Linked DNA regions of Homo sapiens: region 2 is linked to region 1. A link means that fine-mapping ties the variant in region 1 to the expression of a gene that starts in the linked region. Tissue or cell type: lymphoblastoid cells. Region 1 holds a variant in brackets; the other region holds the start of a gene. All regions are shown on one strand. Distances are from middle to middle.

Evidence for each region. PIP is the estimated chance that this variant, and not a neighbour inherited with it, causes the effect.
Region 2: ATG13 starts here. The variant in region 1 is fine-mapped to the expression of ATG13 in lymphoblastoid cells (GTEx, PIP 0.96).

The regions. Positions count from the first base shown.
Region 1 is chr11:46,699,023-46,701,703 of GRCh38, reverse strand. ARHGAP1 (Rho GTPase activating protein 1) reads left to right here and starts at 1,085. Exons shown (of 13, transcript NM_004308.5): 1 at 1,085-1,153. It overlaps ZNF408 (zinc finger protein 408), which reads right to left and starts at 673. Exons shown (of 5, transcript NM_024741.3): 1 at 605-673; 2 at 28-305. The coding sequence starts at 656. RefSeq lists an enhancer at 590-879 and a silencer at 1,210-1,329. The variant C/T (reference allele first, on the strand shown) is at 1,236.
Region 2 is chr11:46,616,155-46,618,835 of GRCh38, reverse strand. It overlaps ATG13 (autophagy related 13), which reads right to left and starts at 1,283. Exons shown (of 19, transcript NM_001346311.2): 1 at 946-1,283. It overlaps HARBI1 (harbinger transposase derived 1), which reads left to right and starts at 1,609. Exons shown (of 3, transcript NM_173811.4): 1 at 1,609-1,712; 2 at 2,455-2,681. The coding sequence starts at 2,599. RefSeq lists a silencer at 1,023-1,317 and an enhancer at 1,297-1,476.

The sequences.
Region 1 (2,681 bases):
GAGGGAAGTCGCTCTATCCTTCAATACCTCCTCCTGCCGTGGCTTTACTCCCTCGCCCTTCTCCTTGGAGGCAGACTCCTCTTCCAGCGGCCCCCACAGCAGGCCGGGCTGCAGGGGGTCCCCGACACACCAGACCCCCAAGCGCTGTTCCTTGGCGAGTGAGGGGCCAAGGGCCAAGCCCCGGGGAAGGCTCTTTAAAGCGAGGATGTCTCGGGTCGGCTCGGGTGGGACGTCTTTGAGGCCCTGCGTACAGCCTTCTCCGGAAGGGTTCCATCCTAAGTCCAGGCCCAGGCGCGGCTCGCGGGCTGCAGAGAGAAGGGAAGACAGTGAGGGAGCCACCCAAGAAGGTGGGAGGTGGGGAAAAGTGTGGGAGGAAACCGCAGGTCCAGGTGGGCCTGCGGAGCCCGAGGGACAGGTGAGGGCTCTAAGGAGGGCCCTGAAAGTTTTGAGGAGGCTCAAGGGCTCTTCAGAAGCCCCCAGCGACTCTGAGGGCACTGGAGGATCCTGGGATCCGGAGGAGAGAAGACTGAGGAGAAAGCTGACCACAGAGCGTCAGATCCACCTGGGCCAAGGTTGAGGGTCGCGGACATCGCAGGTCACTCACCGAGTTGCAGCGCCTTCTTCCCCTCCAAGAGCAGCTCCTCCGCCTCCTCCATTCCGGGTCAGAAAGCCTCCCTACGCCGGAAGTGAGCTTCCTCTTCTCAGCTCCTCCAGGAAACAGTCACGGACTTCCAAATTTTTTTCTCAGGAAAGAAGCCTCAGAGCTGGACCTCATTGGTGCACAGGACTGGGAGTTTGGGAGTACTGGGGAGGCAGAACTCTGTCCGAGAGCAATGCGAACCTCGGATTCCGGAGGTGCACCAGTGATTCGACTAGCTGGGAAAGCGGAACTAATTGTTCCAGCCATCTCTTTGGGAGCGACGAGTCGGACAGTTATGCTGTTACCTCCCCGAGGCAGGAACTTAGGCGGGCATGTGCAGGAAGTGGGCGGGGCTCCTGGAAAGGCCATGTTTGGGGCCGGAAGTGGGTTGGAGGTGTGGCGGAAATGGTTGGGGATAGAAGAGAGCGGGAGGGGGCGGTTCCCGTTCCACCGCGGAGCCGGATGTTTGCCGAGCCTTGACAGGCGTGGCAGAGGGAGCAGTGCCCGAGCGCGGTGAGCTGCTGGGCGCGGGGTCTCCCCGGGTGGGGATGGGGAAAGGAAAGGAGCTGGCCAGGTCGTCCGAAGGGATGGGGTC[C/T]GGATGGGGAGGACCGGAGCAGATCCGAGGAGGGGAACGGGGGTGGAACTGGGCTCAGAGGCCTGGCCTTCCTGCAGGGTTTCTGCCCCATTTTGGCGCCTGCAATAAGAGGACTTAATCATTTTCACTACCTTCTTCCTGCCTTCCCCAGGGCAGAGTCCAGGCCGGATCGCTGTCATCCAGCAAGCCGGCGGGAGGGGGAAATCTCCCAGATCTGATCTGGCAAAGCACTAAGAAGAAGAAATTTGGGGGAAGTGTTCCTCCTTGCCACTTATTAGGCCACGCTTTCAGTTCAACTTATTTATTTTTTTAAGACGGAGTTTCACTCTTATTGCCCAGGCTGGAGTCTCGGTTCACTGCAACCTCCGCCTCCCGGATTCAAGCGATTCTCCTGCCTCAGCCTCCTGAGTAGCTGGGATTACAGGCGTCCGCCACCACGCCCGGCTAATTTTTGTATTTTTAGTAGAGACAGGGTTTCACCATGTTGGCCAGGCTGGTCTCGAACTCCTGACCTCGTGATCCTCCCGCCCCCGCCTCCCAAAGTGCTGGGATTATAGACGTGAGCCACTGCGCCCGGCCTCAGTTCAACTTCTTAATCTGTGAAACAGGATAATTGCAAAACGTAACCTGGGCTTTGTAAACCGTGAAGCTCTATGCAAACATAATTGTAGTTGAGAGTTGTAATTGCTGTTGTATTGTGGTGGGATTTGCAACTGGGAGGCCGATTCCAACGTTGAGAATATGATTTCTTTTCTTTTTTTTTTTTTAGACGGAGTCTCACTCTGTCGCCCAGGCTGGAGTGCAGTGGCGTGATCTCGGCTCACTGCAACCTCCGCCTCCCGGGTTCAAGCGATTCTTCTGCCTCAGCCTCCCAGGTAGCTGGGAGTACAGGCGCGCGCCACCACACCCGGCTAATTTTTGTATTTTTAGTAGAGATGGGGTTTCACCATCTTGGCCAGGTTGGTCTCCAAATCCTGACCTTGTGATCCGCCCGCCTCGGCCTCCCAAAGTGCTGGGATTACAGCCGTGAACCACCGTGCCCGGCTGGTCCTCTCTTTCCTCACTGTAAAATGAGCTTAGTAGAACATGCCTCATCAGTGCTATCGTGAGGTTGAGTTTGTGTCCCCAGTTCATGGTCCTATATAGGCCCTCAACAAGTGTGGGTTCCCTTCTTTACTTAGGAGATGAATTAATTGGTTCATTCATTCAACAAATGATAGCATCTACTATATATCAGGTGTCATTCTGAATAGACCAGAAGTTCTTAAACAGTGATTCTCAGAAGGTGTATGAACCTCTTAAAATTGCATACATCTCCTAAGTTTTCTTAGGGAAAAAGTCCACACATGTTACCAATTTCAGAAAAGTCTACAACTTCCTAAAAGTGATTGCCTAAGGTGATCCTTAAGATTTTTGTAAAGGTTTACCTGCTGAGAATGGAAAAAT
Region 2 (2,681 bases), 83 kb after region 1:
TAATAATAATAATAAAAATTTTAAAATCTAAAAAACTAAAAGACTTCTCCTGAGCTGATAAATGGAGAGTTGAAAACAACAAAAAAAAAACCTCATAATTGAGCTGGAGCCACTACATGCACACATGAAAAGGACTAACAGTCATAAAACAACACACAAAATCTGGAAGCTAATTTAGTGTAAAGGAAGAGCTTGTTGTTTCTTATTATAATACATCTCCCACTAAAGGTGTCCAATAAATTCTATCACCTTAGGAGATGAGTTTTAAACTAAGTGTAATGAGAAAATAGGTAATTTTTTAAAATCTCTTTTTTCTTTTTGGCTGCGGGGTGGCCAGAGAACGAAGAAATACCAAAAGTGAAATGCTACGCTGAATTGACCAGGCTAACTGGGAACTCACTGGAAAAGTGAAAACTGGGAAGAATTAGTGATGAGCTCAAGAAGGTGCTTAGCCACTTACCCAGAGATTTATTTAATGAGAATGGATCACAGGTTTCCACAGGTCGTTCCACTGCCAGTAAGAAGACAGTCGTGAACCATGGGTCCCTTTTTTCACTAGTCAACAGTCACCCTCACCTACACGCGGAGTACATATTTGGCACTCAGCAAATCTTGATTGAATGAAAACCTACCTCACTCATATTGGCACCCAACCCCGGAGTTATGGCCCCCCAAATTACCTCCAAAACGCCTGACGACCTAACCCAAGGAGCTGAAAAAGTGGAGAGGAAAGCTCTGGGGTGGAGGGGATTCTCTGCCAAACAAGCAGGGGCCAACGGGGCCTAGACCAACTCAACTTCCCACAGAAAACTCAGGGGCCCAGGGGATTGAACCGTGGCTAATCCCTTCTACTTCCACGAAGCAGCAGCCAAGGGGCCGCAGATCCACAGCCTCCCACCCGGGGGCGCTGAGAGATCTTGGGGTATCCCCCGCAAAAGTTAGTACCTGCGAAGCTGCGGCACAAAGAGTGGTTCCGGGCTCTCATTACGGAGGCCGGGACCTGGGACCGACCAGCCGCGCCTCCTGGCTGAGGGTTCCGCGCTCCGGAGCTGCAGTGACCGTACACGTCGCCGATAGACACCTAAGGCTTCAGAAGGGTCCTGGCTCGCAGGCCCCAGACGTTTTGCTCCTAAGACTCCGCGAGTTGTCGCACCCACGTCGACTGGCGCTCTTCAGTGCTTCCCTCACTGGTTAAGCGGTCACTCCCGCCTTAAGCCCAGCAGCCGGTCGCTTCCCGGCGCCGCCATCGTTAGTGTTTGTTTTCATCCGCTTCGGTAATGGCCGGGGGGGGGGGGTGAAAGAGGGCTACGGGGGAAATCCAGATGCCTAACCTTAGTCGCACTTTCGCTACAGTACGGACGCCCTATTTATTCTTTTAGTCCTCAAAATATCCATAAAAGTTGATTTTCATTCCACGTAAGCTTTCTTCTCCAATCTTTCTAAGCTACTCAAGATAAAACAAAGACGGAAAGGCGGTGTTTGAGAGAGAGAGAGAGAGACCGTTTGGGCCGCGTGTGGAATGTGCGGAGATGAACCGCAGGTAGCCGCGGCAGCGGCAGTGAGGGCGCGGCGCGGGGCGGGCGCTGACGCGGAAGGGGCGGTGCCGCTGTTGCGCGCCGTGGCGGCCTCTGTGCAGTCGCCGGTTCCGGAGGAGGGCCCAACCCGGCTGGGTGGGTGGGAAGTGTGGCTGGTAACCTGGCAGCCGCGGAGAGGTGGGTGACGGGCCTGGGCTAACTGAGTGGCCGGCGCAATCAGACTTTGACATCCGTTTTTAGGGTGCCCTTTAAAAGTGGCAGAGTCGCTTCCCAAACCTGGTTCGGCCAGCCTCTTTTTCGCTCCCGACTTCCAATGTGTCTGGTCTTCCGTACTTCCTGGCCCTCAGGTTCACGATTTGGAGTTCTTGGAGTGAGGGAAAAGCCTTTTGTTACAGCACACAGTGTACGTCCATAAGGCTGGGTTGTGGACTTTGGTTGTTTTTTTTTTTTTTTTTTTTTTTTTTTTTTTGCCCCTTCTTTTCTTGTTAGACTGGTTTGAACACCCCAGCATCTGTCCTGTATTTGTCAGGTGAAACCAGAAGTCTTTGGATAATGAAACCCGTGACCAATTCTTACCCAAGGTGGTTATGACATATGTCAGCTGCTTCTTGGCCTATATAGTTAGAAGCCGACCTCTTTTACCTTGTGAATAATTATGTCATCACCTCCATTATTCTTTTGGTGTTCTCAATTGAAATGCCAAGCATTAAATGAGCCACAAAGATTGAATTCCCATTATCCTTGAATCAGAGCAAGCCTGTCGTGCAGCCATGAGTTAGTGGAGAAAAATCCGGAGTTGTAAGTACAGTACGTTTTGCCTCAACAAAATGGAAATTTGTAGAAAAGGAGCTGCTCCAGCCTTTGAGTCACTTTAAAGTCTTTGGTAGGTTCCTAATGTTTTTTCTTTTAACATTTACAGAGAGAAGATTATAAATGGCAGAGCCATTTAACTGTGGTTAGCTGTTGGATTCTGATACTTTCTTAAAAATACGTTCTTGCACCAACATCTTCATTGGGAACAGTTCAGAAAAAGCAAAGAGGAGAGCCAACATTCACATTTACCATGGCTATACCAATAACAGTGCTTGACTGTGACCTCTTGCTATATGGCCGTGGTCACCGGACATTGGACCGTTTTAAGCTGGA